Linked DNA regions of Homo sapiens. The protein of the gene in region 7 purifies or fractionates together with the protein of the main gene of each other region. This does not show direct contact. Each region holds a gene or a part of one and is shown on either strand. Other genes may lie near its edges. The genes, in order: SLC25A30, SERINC1, TSPAN15, AGPAT2, SLC26A2, ACSM1 and SLC22A16.

Region 1 (3,500 bases), on a different chromosome or scaffold from region 7:
GGCCAAGGTAGGAGAATTGTTTCAACCCAGGATTTCAAGACCAGCCTGGGCAACACAGTAACACCCTGTGTCAAAAAAAAAAAAAAAAAAGTATTTGCTATTCGTTCACTGCTATCTTAGTGAGTCCTTACTGGGGGTGGGGGGGTGGGGTGGGGATCACATCCCTCAGGTGCACTGCAGCAGACAAATGTTGCAAACTTGTGTCATAAGGTAAAATGACAATTACTTAAAATTACAAGCTACTTCTTTTTTTGTTTTTTTTTTAAGACAGGGTCTCACCCTGTCACAAAGACTAGAGCGTAGTGGCACAAACATGGCTCACCGTAGCCTCAACCTCCTGGGCTCATGTGATCCTCCCACCTCAGCTTCCCAACTACCTGGGACCACAGGCACACACCACCATGCCAGCCTAATTGTTTTATTTTTTGTAGACTGGTCTCTAACTCCTGGACTCAAGTAATCTTCCAGCCCTAGCCTCCCAAAGTGCTGGGAAAAGAGGTGAGAGCCACTATGCCCAGCCACCACAGGCTACTTGTAGTCTACATTCTATAAATATCGGCTCACTTCTCTTAGCCTTATTACGTTACCAGCTGTGAGGCAGTTTGGCATGAGGAAAGAGGCTGACTCTGGGGTCAGAGCCACCCCACACCCTTCCTAGAGAAGTTCCTGCTAACCTGAGTCTCGGTTTTCTTCTTCGCCAACACCATCATCACCACAGCAGGCAACACAACCAATTAGGGGGACATCCATACTTTTATTCACTAAGTTAAATAAATGTCAAGCTGTAGGCCTATTGTGGGCATTAAGCCATATATATTTTAAAGACACTCACAAATATTGCCCTCCATCTTCCTTTTCCATAATAAGACCTTGCTCACTGTGACATGTACTTATGTGCCACAGCTAAGGCCTTTCACATTCATGACATGTTCTGCAGTTGTATGTAATTAGAGCTGGTAAATGTGGCCTCACACCCCTTAACAGGAGACTCATATGACTAATACTTTTGTATATATACTATCAACTATAGCTACTGTTGGTTTAAAATAAAATTTCTAACTTTTCAGTCATTATTGGCAAGCAATATGCCAACATGTTTACTTTGCCTGTGTTTAGGAATTTCCCAAGTCTCCTTTTCCCAGGAGAGGACTACCACAAGTCACCACTGCCCAGAATATCAGTTTCCAACACTAGGACCCCCCATCGGGCACCTTGAATAAATCTATTAATCATTATTCCTTGTTTATGGATATTAACCAAATTCATAGCAGTTACAAATGAGTAAAATAGAAGGTTCTGTAAGAATGAAACATGAAAACCACTGTATGTTTTTAGGTATTTCAGTACTAAGGAGCAAGCCCTCTCCCAAAAGACTCCTCTCATCTCCCTATTATCTTTGAAAATATTTAATAACTGCACTTAAGTAATTCTTAGCCTTATTAAATTCATAACTCATATAATAGTTAAGATTGTAAGAGACTGTAAGAACCTATTAATAATAAATCCAATAATTCATTTACCACCCAGTACTAACTTCCTTAACCCATTCTTAGACCTAGCTGATTGCAGATTAAAAAGCAAAACAAAGCCAGGTGTAGTGGCACGCATCTGTAGTTCCTGAAAGGATGGCTTGAGCCTAGGAGTTCAAGACCAGCCTAGCCAACAGAGTCAGACTCCATCTCTTTTTTTTTTTTTTTTGAGACAAAGTCCCACTCTTGTCCCCCAGGCTGGAATGCAATGGCTCAATCTCAGCTCACTGCAACCTCCACCTCCCAGGTTCAAGTGATTCCCCTGCCTCAGCCTCCCAAGTAGCTGGGATCACAGGCATGGGCCACCATACCCAGCTAATTTTGTATTTTAATAGAGACAGGATTTCGCCATGTTGGCCAGGCTGGTCTTGAACTCCTGACCTCAGGTAATCCACCTGCCTTGGCCTCCCAAAGTGCTGGGATTATAGGCCTGAGCCACCGTGCCTGGCCAGCTAGTTAAGTTTTAATGAGATTTGGCTACTTTTTCCTCTGTCGGTTTTGATATTAAGTTTTCAGTTGGTTAGGTTAAAATCCAGAGGCTCTGGGTTAATACTAATATGCAAATACTTAACTAGAGCTAAAAATGTGATGGAATTGCTTCTTCATAGTTTTCAATCACATGGGATGAATCACATGCCCATTCATTCAGAAGTACCACCAATAAAACTTTTCTACAAATTAGTGTCCACTCCTGGATCAGCATCCTATAAGCAAGTACTTCTATTCAATTACGATTTTTAAAAGTTAGCTAGTCAGGAGGTAAAAACAACTTTTTGGCCTTTCTCTTCCTTTCCAAAAGGTAGGACTAGATCCCTAAGCAGTTAATATTACTGGAACTTATCAAGTTAATGTTTGCTGAGTAAAAGAATAATTTGGCTTAAATATGAACTAGAGAGCCGCAGTACATGGGCAAACATCCAAATAAGGAAAAGGGGGCGGGCGCAGTGGCTCATGTCAGTAATCCCAGCACTTTGGGAGGCCGAGGTGGGCGGATCACCTGAGGTCAGGAGTTCAAGACCACCTGGCCAACATGGCAAAACCCAGTCTCTGCTAAAAATACAAAACTCAGCCAGGCATGGTGGCGGGTGCCTGTAATTCCAGCTACTCAGGAGGCGGAGGCAGAAGAATCGCTTGAAACCGGGAGGCGGAAGTTGCAGTGAGCCAAGATCTTGACACTGCATTCCAGCCTGGGCAACAAAAGCGAAACTTTGTCTCAAACACACACACACACATACACACACACACACACACACACACACACACACACACGAAAACGGTTCTAGTTAGGACTGGAATAAGTAAGTAGATGTCCACTAAGCTGTACTGGCCACAGCAAGCTGTGACAGGGCTATAAGTATCTTAGGCTGAAATCTCTGTTCAGTAAACTAACCCATTTCTTTGTTTTGGAGCTCTTTCTGAAGGGAAGTCTCGTGAAACACTTCCTTGAATTCCAAACACAGTTGTTTGGAAAAATCCCAACTGGATCTACAGAAGTCCCAAGGCTGACAAGCCAAGACAGTTAGAGAGATTAATGTGTCCTTAGCAGTCAATAGTGTCTGGGCAGCATCTCGGGGAAGGAATTACAACTTTGCAGAAATTCCAGTGTCGGGCAGTGGCTGTAGATCACTTCTGATTTGACAGTCCTCTTACAGCCATGTTCTCTAAGCCATGCTAAAACCCAGTAATTCCTTACTTCTCCTTGCTGCGTTATGAACATAATACTAACACTAGCAGTCATCCCTGAATACCTGCTGTTAGGCATTGCTATACATTTTCTTCACAGTCCTATGAAAGAGGTATCATTATCCACATCTCACAACTAAGCAAACAGCCTCAGAGAAGAAAAGTAACTTTCCCTGGTCAAAGCTACCAAATATTCAAACTAAGGTTTCTCTGAAGGATCACATGACCCTTCCTCTAGATAGTACTTTGCAGACACTATCTTCCAAGGGCTGTTAAAAAAATATTGGT
Region 2 (2,479 bases), about 12 Mb from region 7:
AAGAAAGGGAGCAGATTAGATGCAGCAATGATATATCTGAAATCACAAACTGTATACAAAGCACGCTTCTGAATTAATGAAGCTTCATAGCTTGGTGGCTGATAATTCAACCCCCTTGCCCCTTTTTAATAATTTTCCCTGAAATTTTAGGTATGAACCCTCTCGTGAGATGAAAAGTCAGTGGACAGCTGTCTGGGTGAAAATCTCTTCCAGTTGGATTGGCATCGTGCTGTATGTTTGGACACTCGTGGCACCACTTGTTCTTACAAATCGTGATTTTGACTGAGTGAGACTTCTAGCATGAAAGTCCCACTTTGATTATTGCTTATTTGAAAACAGTATTCCCAACTTTTGTAAAGTTGTGTATGTTTTTGCTTCCCATGTAACTTCTCCAGTGTTCTGGCATGAATTAGATTTTACTGCTTGTCATTTTGTTATTTTCTTACCAAGTGCATTGATATGTGAAGTAGAATGAATTGCAGAGGAAAGTTTTATGAATATGGTGATGAGTTAGTAAAAGTGGCCATTATTGGGCTTATTCTCTGCTCTATAGTTGTGAAATGAAGAGTAAAAACAAATTTGTTTGACTATTTTAAAATTATATTAGACCTTAAGCTGTTTTAGCAAGCATTAAAGCAAATGTATGGCTGCCTTTTGAAATATTTGATGTGTTGCCTGGCAGGATACTGCAAAGAACATGGTTTATTTTAAAATTTATAAACAAGTCACTTAAATGCCAGTTGTCTGAAAAATCTTATAAGGTTTTACCCTTGATACGGAATTTACACAGGTAGGGAGTGTTTAGTGGACAATAGTGTAGGTTATGGATGGAGGTGTCGGTACTAAATTGAATAACGAGTAAATAATCTTACTTGGGTAGAGATGGCCTTTGCCAACAAAGTGAACTGTTTTGGTTGTTTTAAACTCATGAAGTATGGGTTCAGTGGAAATGTTTGGAACTCTGAAGGATTTAGACAAGGTTTTGAAAAGGATAATCATGGGTTAGAAGGAAGTGTTTGAAAGTCACTTTGAAAGTTAGTTTTGGGCCAGCACGGTAGCTCACCCTTGTAATCCCAGCACTTTGGGAGGCTGAGGTGGGTAGATTACTTGAGCCCAGGAATTCAAGACCAGCCTGGGCAACATGGTGAAACCCTGTTTCTATAAAAAATAATCTGGGCTTTGTAGCATATGCCTGTGGTCCCAGCTACTGAGGAGGCTGAGGTGGGAGGATTGCTTGAGCCCAGGAGGCAGAGGTTGCAGTGAGCCAAGGTCACGTCACTGCACTCTAGCCTGGGCAACAGAGTAAGACAAAAAAATATATATATATTGAAAATCAAAGGAGGCAAAATTTTGACAGGGAAGGAAGTAACTGCAAAACACTAGGCTTTAGTAGGTACTTATATAAAATCTAGTCCAGTTCTCTCATTTAAAAAAATGAAGACACTGAAATACAGACTTAAATAGCTCAGATAGCTAATTAGGAAATTTCAAGTTGGCCAATAATAGCATTCTCTCTGACATTTAAAAATAATTTCTATTCAAAATACATGCATAATTGATTTTACACCTCATTACTGGTGGATAATTTATGTGATGTGGATTGCTGGTGTCCAGCATGACCCATAAACAGGTCAGAAGAATGATGGAATGTTTTAGAATAAACTCCTGCTTATAGTATACTACACAGTTCAAAAGATGTTTAAAATGCTTTTGTATTTACTGCCATGTAATTGAAATATATAGATTATTGTAACCTTTCAACCTGAAAATCAAGCAGTATGAGAGTTTAGTTATTTGTATGTGTCACTAGTGTCTAATGAAGCTTTTAAAATCTACAATTTCTTCTTTAAAAATATTTATTAATGTGAATGGAATATAACAATTCAGCTTAATTCCCCAACCTTATTCTGTGTGTAGACATTGTATTCCACAATTTTGAATGGCTGTGTTTTACCTCTAAATAAATGAATTCAGAGAAAGTGTGTAGTGTACTGATTATTTAGCAGCTTAACTTTAGGTGGCCATAATAACATTTAGACCTTTCTTCCTATGTGAAAAAGGACCTGGCACTAGAAAGTAACTGCCTGTTTTCTGTAATGATAATTAAATTGCTTAGGAGATTGTTACCCTTTGGTTGTCTGTAAGTGACCCCAGAAGTAGGATCTCAAAGGTAAAGAGGCATTCTTCCCCTAAAGAGTCTTCAGTATATGGATCAGTTTAGTTTGGAGAATATTAATATATTTTCAGTGGATATTCTACATCTACTATGTCTTCCAGCTATTTTTTCTGGTTGCCAGTTTTGATGCTTGTCTTCTTCCACAGATACTTCAGATAGTATAAAAATTTCCCTTACTAAAAAAGAATGTACTTTTACTGATAAAATACTCCAACTCATGTTAGTTACCAAGCTTTAGTATATTTTATTCCATAATTCTTGTGAAGTGGTCTTTCTCCAACATTATCAGCAGCACAATGCCCA
Region 3 (3,500 bases), on a different chromosome or scaffold from region 7:
CAGGCAGGACTGTGGGGCACCCTTGAGTGATGGACCATACAGGGCTGCATGGAAGAGGGGCACTCTGACTTGGTTTTACAAGAATCAGTCTGGCTGTTGTGAGGGACATGCTAGATGCAGGGATAGAGTTAGGGGCTGATATGCAGTGATCCAGGGGTCATAGGTCATCTTGTCCAGGAAGGTGCTCTTGGATCAACACCTGTGGAAGTGGGAGCCAGAAGCGGGATTGGGCAATGAAGGGAGTTGAGCAGTGATGCAGCCTCAGCTCAGTTCGGCTGGAGGCCTCAGCCACATCTATGAGGACAGCCCTTCAGAGTTGTCCCCTACTGGGGTGAGGGGGCCAGGCCTTCACACTCCCACCCACATTGACCAGGCATTGCATGAGTCCAGTGGTCCACCCAAGAAGGGACTTGCTGGCTCTGTTCAGCCAAGAACAGACTAATACAGCAAGAGGAAAGAGAGGGATTGATTGATGATAAGGAATTGGCTTGTGTAATTATGGAGGCGGGCAAGTCCCAAGATCTGCAGGGTGAGTCGGCAGGCTGGAGACCCAGGAGAGCTGAGGGTGGAGTTCCCATTCAAAGGCTGGTCAGGCTTCAAACCTAGGAAGAGCCAGCATTTCAGTTCAAGCCCGAAGGTAGCCAAGCAGGGAGAATTCTCTTATGGTCACTGAGGAGAGGGCAGTCTTTTGTTCTGTTCAGGCCTTCCCTGATCAGATGAGACCTCTCCCCCTTGGGCAGGGCCATCTGCTTTACTTAGTCTGCTGATTTAAACATTAGCCTCATGCAGAAACACCCCCACAGAGACACCCAGGATAATGTCTGGCCAAATATCTGGGTATCCCATGGCCTGGTCATGTTGACATATAAAATTAATGATCACATGAAGTAGTTATTGCAGGGGGCTGACACCTAAGGGCTCCCCACAGCATCCCTGCACCAGGGAGGGGAAGACAGATGCTTGGAGCTGGGTGGTGGTGGTGGTGGTGGAAGTGGCAAACCGTGGTGACATTCTGGCTGTATTTTGCAAGTAAGCCTACAGGATTTGCTCGCATAGCAGATGTGGGCGATGAATGAAAGAGAGAAATCAAGGAGGATACCCAGGTTTTGGTCTGAGCCACAGGAAAGACGGGGCTGCCACTGCCTGAGAGGGGAGGACTGCAAGGAGGCAGGCTGGGTGACCAGGAGCTCACCGTGGACGTGGGGGGTTTGAGAGCCTGTTCAGCATCCCATCAGGGGTGTCAAAGATGCGGTTGGATATAGGAGTCTGGAGTTCTGGGAACGACTAGGCAAGGGGTGTAAACACGGACATCATCTGCAGATAGGGTAGAATCTAAAGACAGCATCTGAATGAGAGCACTGAGGTAGGGAGGAGCCTTCCCCTGGCCGGGGTTATCTGACCCTGTGTTACACATGACCATTGAGTCTCCCTGTGCCACCACACCTGGATGATTTTCTCTAAATGTGAAACAGGGCGTTCGCTTCCTCCATAGAACTGGTTGATTTGTGTCCAGATCTATTTATTTTACACTGTACTATTCAACCTGGGATTTGAATGAGTACACGGGAAATATGTAGTGTAAAAAACTAAAATAGCATTAAAAATCAGGACTGTGGGAATTGTATTCTCAGATAGGAGGCCTAGATGATGGAGAAAAATATAAAATCCTGCTATCTAAGCCTCAGGACCTCATGGACTCACTGAAAAGGAGCTGAGCCTCGTGTCTGGTGGCTTGGAGCAGGGCTCCCCTACCTCCAGGCCATGAACCAGTACCGGTCAGTGGCTTGTTAGGAACCAGGTCGCACAACAGGAGGTGGGCAGAGGTTGAGGGAGCATTGCCACCTGAGCTACACCTCCTGTCACATCAGCAGCAGCATTAGAGTCGCATAGGAGTGTGAACCCTATTGTAAACTGTGCATGCAAGGGACCTAGGGTGCATGCTCCTTATGAGAATCAAACTAATGCCTGATGATCTGAGGTGGAATGGTTTCATCCCGACACCATCACCCCCCACCCCCCCGCACCCCATCCTGTGGAAAAATTATTTTCCTTGAAACCAGTCTCTGGTGCCAGAAAGGTTGGAGACCACTGGCTTAGAGTTTCCTGGCAACCAAAAGGAAAAGGGAGACATGGTCTGTTACATTGTTACTGTTCAGCAGAACATACCAGCAGAACATACCAGTTCTTCAGGGAAAGTAACCTTTTCCCTAACACTCAGCTTTAAAAGAAATGTCTTATATGAGCTTCCAATAGAGGATTTGAGCCATAGAAGTTCACATAGGGCTGTAAAATCTGGTTATACCAGGATATATCCCTCGGAGATGTTGGTGCAGAGGGCAGCGTGCTTCTACATTAAATGGCTCCAGACTGCTGTGCCTGCTGAGCTCTTGGGACCAATTTTCACGTACCTCCCCTCCCTTGTTGTTGGCTACCCCTTGGGGGCCTGTCGCGAAGGCCCCTCTCCCTGTCCCCATTAGCTGCTCAGTCTTTTCAGGGTGAGAGGATGCACACACAAACATTGCTGTGATCTTCTGGCTGCCCAGGAGTCCCCCTTCTGACTTCCTGTCCTGTGGCCCCGTGCAGGATGGAAGAGGCTACTGGACCCTGGTCTTGGGGCCTGTGAACTTCAGCAGAGCCTCTTGCAGAATATCGATTCTATGGTCAGGCAGGTAAACCCAGGCAGGCTTTACTTTTGGAAAGACTATGGATGCATCGTATCCCCTCACCCCTTGGTGAGGGGCTCTCCTGGCAGGGTGAGGTGAGTCCCCCCTGGGCCTGGAGAAGGGTTCTGGGCTCTGATGCCAGAGAGGCCTCTGCCAGTTGCCTGTGTGCTAAGAGACTCATCCCCCGAGGTCACCAGAGCTGGCCCAGTGAAGTCACTCTTGTCACCTCCCTACGTACCATGCAGCTTACCTATTTGTTATGTTCATTATCTCCCTTTCTACAGTGTAAGTTCCATGAAGGCAGGGACTTTGTCTTGTTGTTCTGTATTTCAAGTGACTAGAACTGGGATTGACATGCAATAGGTGCTCAGTTAATATTTGTTCAATGAACAAATGAATGAACCAATGAGATGGAAAGCACTCACTCCCATCATGTGCCCGTGCACCTGCTCTCCAGGCCTGACCCTCTCCATAGGGGTTGTGTTTATGGCCTGGAAGGGCCAAAAACACTGGCTGACTAATGCCCAGTGGGCACTGGGCATGGCTGGGACTGAGGCTACCTGGAGAACCAGCTAAACCGAGGGAGGTCGTCTTGCCTGCACATCAAGCCCTGACATTTAGAATGACCTAGATGACATCTGAGGCCCAACCCTCTCTCGGAAGGAGAGAAGACACCCTCCCTTTCCTTTGCAGGGGCTGGAATTGTGAACAAATCACGCCAGCCAGCATTCTTGTGCTCCTCCATGTGCCCAGCCCCGTGATAAGCACTTTATATGTGTATCTCACTTTATGTCCAAAACAGCCCTAGGAGGTGGGTTCTGTGATCATCACAACCTA
Region 4 (2,408 bases), on a different chromosome or scaffold from region 7:
CTGCCTGACCCCCAGCACAATAAAAATGAAACGTGAGCTGCTGTGTCAGTGGATGGACTGGGGGCCTGGGAGGAGGGCGCTCACCTCCTGGCCACCCCTCCCAGACCCACTGCTGGGTGCCAGCTGGCAAAGGGGGCCTGGTGGAGCGGGCAGTCGTGGGGTGGGGAGGGGGTCCAAGGCAGAGGGGGTGGGCAGGTGGTTTCTGTGAGGCCACAGAGAGCTTTGTCCTGGGGACATGTTGGCCCCAACCAGAGGCCAAAGAGCAAATCTCTGGCCTCCTTCCCAGTAGCCTGAGGATCCCGGCACACTTGCCCGTTAGGCGACACCCCCACCCATCGATGGAAGTAGTATAGGGTGATGTGGGTCCACTCCTGGATAGGGAACACGGGTGGGTGGCGGTGCCTGCACCCTGGGCCTCTAGGCAGGGCAGCTGGGAAGACACAGCGTCGCCTCCACCGCCCTGGTCACCTGCCCGCCCTGTGAGTGACCACAGCTCCCCAGCCACTTCCAAGAGTGTGTTTATAAAAAAACAGCAACGGAGTACAGTGCTGACCCCACAGAGTCTTCCAGGCCAGCAGGAGCAGCAGGCCCCGATTCCCGGCTCCCTGTGGCCCAGGGTGCGTGAGTCTGGGACTCCTGGCCCTCCAGGCCCCTCCTCTCCCAGAGAGCCTGATGCAGCTTGTGGGCTGGACCCTGGAGCCCAGCTGCACCCTGGTGGGTCCCAGGCGGCTGAGCAGAGGGCTCGGACAGTGTGCGTCTGGCCTCGGGGTCCTCCCATCTGCTCCTGGGCCATCGGGGGCCTTGTGGCTCAGCCCACCAGCGGGCCACAGCCGCAAGCCTCATCTTTATCATCCCAGCTCCCAGAGGTGCCGTGGGCGCGAGTCCCTGCCCTCGAGCCCGGGGAGGGTCCAGCTGAGCCCCCTGCAGGGGACACCAGGGGCCTGTGTCTGAGGCCAGTGACAGAAGGGGCTTCCTGCTTCCCGGGCTGAGTGAGAGCTGGGGGAGCCGGACAGAGTGGTATTTGGAAGCCGGGAGGAGTCCCCTCTGCCCATCCTCCAGCCATCGGCTTCCACCTGCCCTCCCCAGGTCATGCCCTGCCGTGGTCTGGGCTACTGGGCCGGCTGCACGCCAGACCCCGCAGTGGCCCCGTTCTCCTGGGGGGTCTTGGAGATGTGGAGGAAGGTGGTCCTCATGGCCCGGTGGCAGGTGTCCACGAGCGCAGGGACGTCCGCCGCAGTGAGGCCGCTGGTGGGGATGGCTTCCAGCACCTGCACTGTGACTGTTCCTGTGGGGGAAGCAACAGACCTCAGTGGCCTGTGGGGAGCTGGGGCCCACCTCAGCCTGCTGCCCTGGCCTCGCCTCTCCCCAGCCCCCCACAGCCCCTCCCTGGGAAGCCCGAGGCCGGGCTCTTCCCCTGGACTCCCTAGCCGTGGTGGGTTATTTTAATTGCAGTAACGTTGCTGCAGTAAACCCCATGGCTGCCTGGCCTTCACGCCGCATTTTCGACAAGTCTGCGCTCCCCTGTTACTGCCCCCAGAAAGCCCCACTTCCTGATCAGCCCCTACCTCACTGCCTGGCCTCTGCCCTCCATACGGGGCGAGGGGCTGTGGGAGAGATGGAGCTGGGTTCCCCCACTGCTCTCCAACTTTGACCCCACTGTCCTGCCTGGGCACCAGGTGCCCACGTTCTGGGAACTGGCTGGAAGGGGCAAGAGGTCATGAGCCCCGCAGCCTGTGCCCCTGGGCTGCCTGGGTTCCATCTACCCTATGCGGGCATCAGCCTGGACACATGGGCTCAGAGGCCGCCCTCCAGGCCCCCAAGCTGTGTGCACAGCTGGGGTCCATCCGTGTGAAGTCTCTTGGAGCCTCAGTTTTCTCATCTGAAAAATGGGCCCAGCACCACCCATCTCACAGGGCCATGAGGCCATGAAGCCCACAGCTGGGACTCCAGCCTGAGTCACTCATTCGCCACATGGTCACCGTGTGGCCACGCCACGGGTGCCACCCGGAAATGGGAACGATGAGGGGCCCGGGGCTCCGTGACTGTAGGGTCAGGCGGGGCCTACACCCCGGGTGCACACATGTGGGGGTACCTGAAGTGAAGAACTTCTTCTTGGTGTTGTAGAAGGAGGAGAAGGAAGAGTACACCACGGGGACGATGGGCACCTGCAGGCAGGGAGACGCACAGCTGAGGCAGCCCTGGGGACAGGCCAGGCACACCCCAGGCTGCATGTGGTTGGGGAGCCCTGTCCTGCGGCCCACCCACCCCTGCCTTCGCTGCTGCCATGGGTCCTTGTGGCTGTCCTGCCCCTGGGACCTGGGATATGTGTCCTGCTCTGGTTGGCCCAGAGTTCCATAAGCTCATCCTGCAAATTTTTACTCATCTCCTCTAGGAAGCCCTCCTGAGCT
Region 5 (3,500 bases), on a different chromosome or scaffold from region 7:
TTTTTGTGGAGACAAGATCTTGCTATGTTACCCAGGCTGGTCTCGAACTCCTGGCCTCAAAGTGATCTTCCTGCCTTGGCCTCTCAAAGCGCTGGGATTACAGACATGAACCACTGTGCCTGGCCTCTGTTTTATATATTGTATCTAGGAAGGGACCGATTTATATAAGGTGTCATTTGAGGTTGGGCAATGAGCAAAGGCCCCAAGGGCAAAGGCTGCTTGATATTTTCATGGACTGGTGATTGGAACACTAGTGCATAGGAGGAAGCAAGACAGTGGCAGTTTTAGGCTCATGCATAGAAGCTTATACCAATGTTTTTAGACCATATTTGGTAGGAGATAGGGAGCCAGTGCAGATTTTTGGGGAGCATATCCAAATGGTTGACCTCATCTTGCTAATGAATGCTTCTTTTGAAGAAGAGGCATAGTGCTTTAAAAATGTAGGTTCAGGCTGGGCTCTTCCTTTGCTCATGCCTATAATCCCAGCAATTTGGGAGGCCGTGGCAGGCAGATCACTTGAGCTCAGGAGTTCAAGACCAGCCTGGACAACACGGCGAAAACCTGTCTCTACAAAAAATACAAAAAAATAGCTGGGCATGGTGGCGTGCACTTGTGATCCCAGCTACTCAGGATCGCTTGAGCCCAGGAGGTGGAGGTTGCAGTGAGCTGAGATCATGCCACTGCACTCCAGCCTGGGTAACAGAGTGAGACCCCATCTCAAAAATAAAAATAAAAAATAGCCAGGCGTGGTGGCTCACGCCTGTAATCCTAGCACTTTAGGAGGCCGAGGCGGGCGGATCACGAGGTCAGGAGCTCGAGACCATCCTGGCTAACACGGTGAAACTCTGTCTCTACTAAAAATACAAAAAATTAGCCAGGTGTGGTGGCGGGCACCTGTAGTCCCAGCTACTTGGGAGGCTTAGGCAGGAGAATGGCATGAACCCAGGAGGAGGAGCTTGCAGTGAGCCAAGATTGTGCCACTGCACTCCAGCCTGGGCAACAGAGTGAGACTCTGTCTCAAAAATAAAAAATTAAAAAAAAAATGTAGGTTCAATATTAGAGGAAACTGAGTGACCATTATACAGGAACTGTGTACTATTTTTACAGCTTTTCTGCAAGTCCACAGTTATTTCAAAATAAAAATTTTTTTTAAATGTAGGTTCAATAAAGTGTTTAAGGCTGAACTATGCCTGCAACTTTCAAATAGTTGAAAAACAATAATGACAAAACCCATATAAGTATGGAGAGAGAGTGTGTTAACATCTTATGAACTGTAAAATTGCTAAATAGGTGAATTGTTAGTATGGAAGTGTTCCATGTATCATTCTTTCAACTTTTCTGAAGATTTAAAAACAGCTTCAAAATAAGCAATCAAGCGACAGTATACGTTTGAATCAGGCAGGCTTGTTCAAGTCATGATTCCCCTACTTACAAGCTGTGTGTGGCTGGGCGCGGTGGCTCACGCCTGTAATCCCAGCACTTTGGGAGGCCGAGGCAGGCGGATCACAAGGTCTGGAGATGAGACCATCCTGGCCAACATGGTGAAACCCTGTCTCTACTAAAAATACAAAAATTAGCCGGGCATGGTGGCAGGCGCCTGTAGTCCCAGCTACTCAGGTGGCTGAGGCAGGAGAATCGCTTGAACCTGGGAGATGGAGGTTGCAGTGAGCCGAGATCACACCACTGCATTTCAGCCTGGGCAACAGAGCAAGACTCTGTCTCAAAAAAAAAAAAAAAAAAAAAAAGCTGTGTGAAGTATTGGAAAATTATTTCTAAACTACATATTCTAGTCTAGTTTATTTTTATTAAAAATATATTTTTAATTATTTTTTTTTCTTACACTGTAGCTCTTACCAGTCTAGTCTGAGATTTTTCCATATAAGAGAGGAGACTTACTTTGGTTGTTGACTTGTTCACATTAATGCTGGGTTAATGTTAAGACTTCAGGTTTTCCACAAACTTGAGATCTTTAGGTTGTTTTTAGGTCGACTCTAGTTTTCCTGTAATTATCTGATGTATATACACTTACAGAGACTGGCATAGGCAATCTATTAGAGGAAAAAGGTTAGGAGTCAGGATACTTGGGTTCTGGATCCATCTCTGCCTTTAAGTAGCAAATGATTTCACTAATCTGAACCTTTATTTATTTATTTTATTTTATTTTTTGAGACAGAGTCTTGTCTGTCACCTAGGCTAGAGTGCAGTGGCGCAATCTCAACTCACTGCAACCTCTGTCTCCTGGGTTCAAGTGATTCTTGTGCCTCAGCCTCCCAAGTAGCAGGGATTATAGGCATGTGCTACCACGCCTGGCTAATTTTTGGATTTTTAGTAGAGATAGAATTTCACCATGTGGGCCAGGCTGGTCTTGGACTCCTGAGCTCAAGTGATCCGCATGCCTCGGCCTTCCGAAGTGCTGAGATTATAGTTGTAAACCACTGGTACCCAGCTGAACTCTTATTTCTTACCAAAAAATCATGGCGGTTGGATTTCTTGATCTCTGTCTAGCTCTAAAGTCCTGTAATTCAGGAAAACTACCACTTAATGATTTGATCATTTAGTTTGAACTGTCTCATGGTTGGGACAGAGGGTTATGACTTGCCTGGAGTCCAGGGCTCCTGACAACAGGTTACTTTTTCTACTGACCCTCACTGCCTATGGTTTTAGATTGTGTTATGTGTTAAAAGCAGTTACTTAAACACACATACACAAACATGCATATCACACCATATTTACAACAGGTTGTGAAGCTCAGTTTTAAATGGCCTAGATTTCTTAGGAAAATCCCAGTACAGGTTGAGTATCCCTTACCTGAAATGCTTGGGACTGGCAGTGTTTCCAATTTCTGAATTTTTTTTTTTAATATTTGTTTTATACTTACTAGTTGAGCATCTCTAATCTGGAAATCCAAATTGCTCCAGTGAGCATTTCTTTTGAGCATCATGTTGGTGCTCAAAAGTTTCAGATTTTGGTGCATTTTTGATTTTGGATTTTTGAATTAGGGATACTCAACCTGTATCTGATTAATATGTCATCAAATCTATCCAATGAAGCTGTCATATTTTAAAACTAAATATAACTGTTTTTAGAAAAATATTACAAAAAGAAATAAAACCTTGCTTAGATACTTCCTCCCAAAGTTGTGTGTGTCTGGGGACTTAAGAAATACATTTCCCAAGGCTGCGTATCCAGAGTATTGGAACATTCAGTGACGATTTCTTAGGAATTGAAATATAAACTGCAATTGAAAACAAAATGACTTAGCTGGGCACAGCGGCGTGTGTCCATAATACCAGCTAATCTGGAAGCTGAAGTGGGGGATTGTTTGAGGCCAGGAGTTCAAGGCTGCAGTGAACTATGATCATGCCACTGCACTCCAGTCTGAGCAACAGAGTGAGACTGTGTCTCTTAAAGAAAAGAAAAAGAAAATTATGTAACAGGTTATATTCAAGCTACTCTTTTCCCCTTCAGATAAGAATTAGACTTTATAGCTTTATTGTAGT
Region 6 (3,500 bases), on a different chromosome or scaffold from region 7:
GTTTCAGTTGTACGTAATTGGGAAATATTTGGCAGTACACCTTTGAGACCTGGCCTGAGGGTGGTATGGAGCCCCACACAAATCACATGAACTGAGAGTGAGAAAGGTGGGTTCGTAGCTAAAAACCAGAGTGCACAGCCCTTCATCACATCAGCCATGATCACACAGCTGAGGCCACTGCATTTTGGAGTTAGTAGGAAATTACGGAGCCTGAAGACATCTGATGTCTCCTGGTGCCTGTCGGACTCAGGATGGATTGTGGCTACCATTTGGACCCTGGTAGAACCATGGACAGCGGGTTGTACAGTCTTTATCCACCATCTGCCACAGTTTGACACCAAGGTCATCATACAGGTAAGAAGACTCACCTTCCCCTATCAGCAAAATTCCAGAAAAAAATCCATGTTTCCTGGACCTTGCTAAAAAAATATTTTATTAAGCAAAGAAGCCCATGAGCCTAAGATGATCCTGAGCCTGGGCTTCTCAAAGTGTGATGCACTGAGTCTGAGTCACTATACCTGAGTCACATCAAAATGTGACCTTGAAGAAAATGTGTATTACTGGGCGATCCTTCAGACCTGTAGATCAGTCTTTGTAGACTTGGGACCCAGGATGTGCATTTTGAAAAATTAAAGCAAGCACAAGTCCAAGTCTCCCAGATCCTGGACCCTGATGCTGCCAGGGCCAAGCAGCTGGGGTGTGTGTGTGTGTGTGTGTGTGTGTGTGTGTGTGTGTGTGTTTTCTTACTCAATATGATAAAATGTTTAAAAACAGCCCTTGGAATATGACAGATCTAGCTTCTTATCCCACCTTTGAAATTAACTAGCAGGTTACATACCACTCTGAGCATCAGTTTCCTTATCTGCAAAATAGGTCTTTTAATAATTACTACCTCATAAAGTCTTAGGTAATATTAATGAGATGATAGAGGCGATATGTGTAAAGTACTTAACCCTGACATTAGCACATAGAAAACACTCTATCTGTGGGAGCTGCTGCTGCTATTGTTATGATGAGTACATCATGATGACAATTCAAGTCACCTGCATGAATTCTTTCTGTCTATGTCCCTTCACCCCAACATTTTCTTTATGTCTCCACTCACACCCTTGCTTTCCCTCTCAGAGGCAGACCTTGCCCTCCACCTCTCAAAATCCACCCGCTCTGCACAACCACTGCAGAGTTCTGTCTCCTGGCCTTGGATAAACAGCATTTCTTTATTAATCTTTAATCTACTATGCATTTTCTCCTGTATTTTCAGTCTCTCACTTTTCGCTAGTTTTACACCCTCAGTCCGTAAACATATTCAGTGTACTTATCCTAAAATGCCTTCCTTTGAACCTGCTACACACTGGGTCAACCCATCTTTTCCACCTTAATACCAAACTTCACCAAAGAACATCCTCCATTTGCTGCAGCCACCTCTGCTTCACCTAGCCTGCTCCTGAATACTGCAGTGCTCCAGTGGTCTGCCCTTACTGTTCTTCTTTCTAAGCAATTTCCTTCACCTCCATTTTTCTCAGCAAGCACATCAATGCAGGTGGCTGTCAGGACTGTACCTAGGGTCTAGTCTTCTCGGTCCAAGCTGATTCTCCCAGGCTAGCAAAACATTTCCAACCTGCTAGTTGGTAAAGCCCATCTGATCATTCCTCCAGAACATCAAACTGCACTTCCCATATCTCATTACCTACCTCTATATCAATGCCTCCTCCTGTGTCACCATCATTATTTTCTGTACCACATTCTGCACCTGAGACTTAAAGCACCACAAACAAGACTGACCACCCTTCCCATCCTCATGCCTAATTCTTCCGCTGCTATAGAGAGTGTCCCAAAAGGTCTTTATGTATTTTAAGCCTTAGTAAATGCTTAAAGTTTAAAATTCTACAAATTTACCAAAAAAGCATTTGCATTACTATTTCCCACTTACTATTTTTATGAATTATTCATAATAATTTTTAATTTAGATATTGTATTAGTCCATCTTATTGAAGACTAAAACAAAAAGTCTTTTAAATTTTTGATTCAGAGGGTGCATGTGCAGATTCGTTACATGAGTATATTGCATGATTCTGAGGTTTGGAGTAAGAATATTCTCATGACCCAGCTAGTGCATATAGTACCCAATAAGTTTTTCAGCCCACGACCCCCTCCCTGTCTCTCCCTTCTCATAGTGTCTATTGTTATCCCCAGCATCTATTGTTTCCAACTTTATGTCCATGTGTATTCAATGTTTAGTTCCCACTTATAAGTGAGAAAAAAATGATGTTTGGTTTTTTACTCCTGCATAAATTTACTTAGGATAACAGCCTCCAGCTTCATCCATGTTGCTGCCAAAGACATGATTTCATTCTTCTTTATGGCTGTGTAGTATTGCATGGTGTATATGTAGCACATTTTCTTTATACCAGTCCACCATTGATGGGCACCTAGGTCAATTTGATGTCTTTGCTATTGTGAATAGCACTGCCAATAACATATGAGCCTCTGTGTCTTCTTGGTAGAACCATTTATTTTCCTTTGGATATATACCCAGTAATGGGATTGCTGGGTCAAACGGTAGTTCTAAGTTTGTTGAGGAATTTTCAAATTGCTTTCCACAGTGGCTAAACTAATTTGCATTTCTATCAATAGTATATAAGCATTCCATTTTTTCCAAAGCCTCACCAGCATTTGTTTTTGACCTTTTAATAATCACCATTCTGATAGGTGTGAGATGGTATCTCACTGTGGTTTTAATTTGCATTTCTCTGATTAATGACATTGAGCATTTTTTCATATGTTTGTTGGATGCTTGCATGTCTTCTTTTGAGAAGTGTCTGTTTATGTACTTTGCCCATTTTTTAATTGGATTATTTGGGTTTTACTTGTTGATTTGTGTTCTTTGTAGATTCTGATATTAGTTCTAATTAGACATCACATATAAGAGTCTACAAATAACTTAAATTCTTTGTAGAATCTGGATATTTGATTCTGGATGTTGTCAGATGCATAGTTTGAAAATATTTTCTCCCACTCTGTAAGCTGTTTACTCTCTTGATAATTTCTTTTGCTGTGCTGAAGCTCTTTAGTTTAATTGGGTCCCACTTGTTAATTTTTGGTTTTGATGCAATTGGTTTTGGGGACTTAGCCATAAATTCTTTGCCATAGCTAATATCCAGAAGAGTATTTCCTAGATTTTCTTCTAGGATATTTACAGTGTAATGTTTTATATTTAAATCCTTACTCCATCTTGAGTTAATTTTTGTATATGGCGAAAGGTAGGAGCCCAGGTTTATTCTGCTACATATGGCTAGCCAGTTTTCCCAGCACCATTTATGGAATAGGAAGTCCTTTCTCCATTGCTTATTTTTGTTCACTTTGTTGAAGACCATATGGCTATAGCTGTGACTTCTCTATTGTGTTTCACTGGTGTATTTGTCTGTTTTTGTACCAGTACCATGCTGTTTTGGTTACTGTAGCCTTATGACATAGTTTGAAGTTGGGCAACGTGATGCCTC
Region 7 (3,500 bases):
CTGCCAACCATATTATTATGATATCTCTTAGTGTTATGTTGTAACACATGTACATATGAGGGGACTTCAACCAGTTCATGGAAAAATGGCATTAAAAGACAAAAATTTAAAACATAAACTTTCTCAACATGATTGCCATCAAGGTCAAGACACTTTTGTACGACATCAGCCATTTATTCCATCCTTAAAAAACTGAGGGTCCTGAGAATGTACCCATGTCAATGCAGTCTTATTTACACTATTAACTGAAGAAAAATGGGTGCCGCGTACAGACTTTTTAAGATTAGGAAACAGAAAGAAGTCAGAATGAGCCACCATGAGAACTGTTAAGGTGGCTGCCTAGTGATTTCCCATCAAAACTCTTGCAAAATTGCCCTTGTTTGATGAGAGGAATGAGCATGCCCATTGTCATGGAGGAGAAGGACTCTCTGGTGATGTTTCCCAGGCATTTTTCTACAAAAGCTTTGGTTAACTCTCTCAAAACACTCTCCTCATAAGCAGATATTTTCATTCTTTGGCCCTCCAGAAAGCTAACAAGCAAAATGCCTTGAGCATCCCCAACAAACGTTGCCATGACCTTTGCTTTCGACTGGTCCACTTTTGCTTTGACAGGACCATGGCCCCCCTTGGTAACCATTGCTTTGGTTGGGCTTTGTCTTCAGGATCAGACTCGTAAAACCGTGTTTCATCTCCTGTTACAATTCTCCAAAGAAATCCTTCAGGATCTTGATCCCACTTGTTTAAAATTTCCATGGGAAGTTCTGCCCTTCTCTGCAGCTGATCTGGGCACAACTGTTTTGGCACCCATTGAGTGGAAAGTTTGCTCAACTTTAATTTTTCAGTCAGAATTCTGTAAGCCAGACTAATTGAGATATCTATGGTATTGGCTATTGCTTCTGCTGTTAATCTCAGTCTTTGTCAATTAGGGCATAAACAAGATGTATTTTTTTCCTCAATGTGGATGCTCTGCCACTGTGGTCTTCATCTTCAATATCGTCTTGTCCTTTCTTAAAATAAGTTATCCATTTGTAAACTGCTGATTTATTTGGGGCTTTGTGCCCGTAAACTTTTCATAAAGCATCAATGATTTCACCATTCTTCCACCCAAGCTTCACCATAAATTTGATGTTTGTTCTTGCTTCAATTTCAGCAGAATTCATGTTGCTCTAGTGGGAGCTCTTTTCAAACTGATATCTTATTCTTCTTAGTGCCTCAAACTAGCTCCTCTTCAGACACGTTCTAAGAAGTTAGTACAAATTTCTTTTAGTGCAGAAAAAATCTGAAAACACATGCATAGTTTTTTCATAATATGCACTTTCCATTAACTTTTTTTTTTGGAAAAGGAGTCTTGCTCTGTTGCCCAGGTTGGAGTGCAGTGGTGTGATCTCAGCTCACTGCAATATCCGCCTCCTGGGTTCAAGCGATTCTCCTGTTTCAGCCTCCTGAATAAATGATATTACGGGCACATGCCACCATGCCCAGCTAATTTTTATATTTTAGTAGAGACAGGGTTTCACCATGTTGGCCAGGCTGGTCTCGAACTCCTGACCTCAGGTGATCCACCCGCCTTGGCCTCCCAGAGTGCTGGGATTACAGGCATGAGCCACAGCACCCCGCCGTCCATGACCTTTTTGAAAACTCCTTGTATTTTCCATTTGAAAAAAATGCATCAGAAGAATTTAGTCTCTCCCTTTCTGCCTTCTCTCCTTGCTCACCTTCTTCACACCCATCCCCAGCCCAGAGCTCCTCCCAGGGGTAACTTCTATAATGTTTGGGTTGTGCCCTTTCAGATCTATTCCTATGCATTTGTGCCAGACATTGTGGCATGTGCCTGTAGTCCCAGCTACTCGGGAGGCTGAGGAGGGAGGATTACTTGAGCCCAGGAGTTCTGGGCTGCAGTACTCTATGCTGATCAGGTGTCCACACTAAGTTCAGTATCAGTATGGTGACCTCCTGAGAGCAGGGAACCACCAGGTTGCCTAAGGAGGGGTGAACCGGCCCTGGTCGAAAATGGAGCAGGTCAAAATTCCTGTGCTGATCAGATCTGTTTCTACGCATTTTCATATATTTGTGCATATTAATGTTTTATATTTTAACATAAATGAGATCACTCACTATATATTGTTCTTTGTAAGTTGCTTCCCTTTTAAAATTTAATATGCCTTGGCTATCTGGCACCTCTCAACCTTCAAGTGTCCTTAATTTATAAATTTTAGTTAGTAAAATAACTTTTAAATACATGCAACTATAATTTATGTTGTTGTACTTCTTTCATTTTAATGGCAGGTTAAATCACTTTAGATAGCTTGAGATGTGACTCCTAGTGTAAACCAAATTTAAACTAAAACGTGAGAGAAATATTAGAAACCTCTTTTTATCCATCTAGTCTTAACTCCTGCTTATTGCTGTGTAGGCTGCCTGTATTTTATATTATCCTCAAAACATCTTGCTTCTAAATTTTTATACGTAGACATCGTGCCATCTCATTAAAGTGCTCTGACGGCACATCTGGTTATTTTTTCTGATTTCCTCAGCAGACACATCCGTTTTTGTTCATTATAGCTCAGCAGGAATTATGAGAGAAGTCGTTTTAAGAAAAAAAGATTTACTCTTTTTTTTGAAGCAAACTAACAAGTTTATAGAAAGAGCCTGTCTTGACTTCAAACTCATTCTCTATGACAATTTGAGATGGTGCAGTATCCCTAGAACAGAGTGGCCAATGGTAGGTGGGGTGGAGTGTGGATGCAGAAGCTTAGGAAGGCTAGAAGTTTAGATCTTCATGACATAGTTTTTTACTTTTGCCAAAGACATAAATTGTCAAAAAACTGGGCAATCTCATAAATACAAAAATGTTTCCAAAGACAAACACACATGGTTTTATATTATCTACCGTTTTGGATTTTTCACTTGTACTCTTGCAGATGGGTGCTTCTGTTCAATAATTCTCGGCTGTGAAATTTTTGAACAAGTTTTTATCTCCTGAGACAGTTTGGGGCTGGTGGGAATTTGGGCTCTGGCTTTGTGCCATTTGCAGGTGCCAGGCGGATTATGAGCATTAGAGCATTTCACAGGAAACGCTCATCTTTACTGTAGTGAGTTTAAAAGTGGCGGGGCTGGCTGCCTCGCAGCAATTCTTAGAGAGTTTCTAAAGGCCCCAGAAGTGAGGAGAGGGCTGCTCATGCCTTTTGGGTAGTGGGTTAGAAGACGGGGGTCCCCTTTTGCAGTCGGGTACCTAGACTTATAGAGGGCTGCTTGCTCAATGACAGGTGTAGTGGAAATTCCCGCCTACACCTTCGTGTGCATCGCCATGGACAAGGTCGGGAGGAGAACAGTCCTGGCCTACTCTCTTTTCTGCAGTGCACTGGCCTGTGGTGTCGTTATGGTGATCCCCCAGGTGAGTTATCTTCTGTTTTTTATAAGACAGTTATACTGTGACAGTTTGATGGGAAGAATTTAGCTTATTACAGTTAAGTATGAAGGTCAATTCAGAGTATGATTTG

Evidence for each region.
Region 1: the proteins of SLC22A16 (region 7) and SLC25A30 purify together in Homo sapiens (affinity purification with mass spectrometry; 2 studies listed by BioGRID and IntAct, with this or other methods). This does not show direct contact.
Region 2: the proteins of SLC22A16 (region 7) and SERINC1 purify together in Homo sapiens (affinity purification with mass spectrometry; 2 studies listed by BioGRID and IntAct, with this or other methods). This does not show direct contact.
Region 3: the proteins of SLC22A16 (region 7) and TSPAN15 purify together in Homo sapiens (affinity purification with mass spectrometry; one large-scale study listed by BioGRID and IntAct). This does not show direct contact.
Region 4: the proteins of SLC22A16 (region 7) and AGPAT2 purify together in Homo sapiens (affinity purification with mass spectrometry; 2 studies listed by BioGRID and IntAct, with this or other methods). This does not show direct contact.
Region 5: the proteins of SLC22A16 (region 7) and SLC26A2 purify together in Homo sapiens (affinity purification with mass spectrometry; 2 studies listed by BioGRID and IntAct, with this or other methods). This does not show direct contact.
Region 6: the proteins of SLC22A16 (region 7) and ACSM1 purify together in Homo sapiens (affinity purification with mass spectrometry; 2 studies listed by BioGRID and IntAct, with this or other methods). This does not show direct contact.

The regions. Positions count from the first base shown.
Region 1 is NC_000013.11:45,411,874-45,415,373, forward strand, and holds part of SLC25A30 (kidney mitochondrial carrier protein 1), read right to left. Parts: intron 66-3,500; exon of another isoform or gene 1-65. UniProt on the Homo sapiens protein: Antiporter that transports inorganic anions (sulfate, sulfite, thiosulfate and phosphate) and, to a lesser extent, a variety of dicarboxylates (e.g. malonate, malate and citramalate) and, even more so, aspartate.
Region 2 is NC_000006.12:122,442,851-122,445,329, reverse strand, and holds the end of SERINC1 (serine incorporator 1), read left to right. Parts: intron 1-150; coding exon 151-286; 3' UTR 287-1,979; downstream 1,980-2,479.
Region 3 is NC_000010.11:69,499,965-69,503,464, forward strand, and holds part of TSPAN15 (tetraspanin-15), read left to right. Parts: intron 1-3,500. UniProt on the Homo sapiens protein: Part of TspanC8 subgroup, composed of 6 members that interact with the transmembrane metalloprotease ADAM10.
Region 4 is NC_000009.12:136,672,643-136,675,050, forward strand, and holds the end of AGPAT2 (1-acyl-sn-glycerol-3-phosphate acyltransferase beta), read right to left. Parts: intron 2,166-2,408; coding exon 2,093-2,165; intron 1,286-2,092; coding exon 1,110-1,285; 3' UTR 501-1,109; downstream 1-500. UniProt on the Homo sapiens protein: Converts 1-acyl-sn-glycerol-3-phosphate (lysophosphatidic acid or LPA) into 1,2-diacyl-sn-glycerol-3-phosphate (phosphatidic acid or PA) by incorporating an acyl moiety at the sn-2 position of the glycerol backbone.
Region 5 is NC_000005.10:149,963,758-149,967,257, forward strand, and holds part of SLC26A2 (sulfate transporter), read left to right. Parts: intron 1-3,500. UniProt on the Homo sapiens protein: Sulfate transporter which mediates sulfate uptake into chondrocytes in order to maintain adequate sulfation of proteoglycans which is needed for cartilage development.
Region 6 is NC_000016.10:20,666,681-20,670,180, reverse strand, and holds part of ACSM1 (acyl-coenzyme A synthetase ACSM1, mitochondrial), read left to right. Parts: intron 1-190; exon of another isoform or gene 191-194; coding exon 195-354; intron 355-3,500. UniProt on the Homo sapiens protein: Catalyzes the activation of fatty acids by CoA to produce an acyl-CoA, the first step in fatty acid metabolism.
Region 7 is NC_000006.12:110,438,614-110,442,113, reverse strand, and holds part of SLC22A16 (solute carrier family 22 member 16), read left to right. Parts: intron 1-1,820; exon of another isoform or gene 1,821-2,042; intron 2,043-3,266; coding exon 3,267-3,394; intron 3,395-3,500. UniProt on the Homo sapiens protein: Facilitative organic cation transporter that mediates the transport of carnitine as well as the polyamine spermidine. Mediates the partially Na(+)-dependent bidirectional transport of carnitine.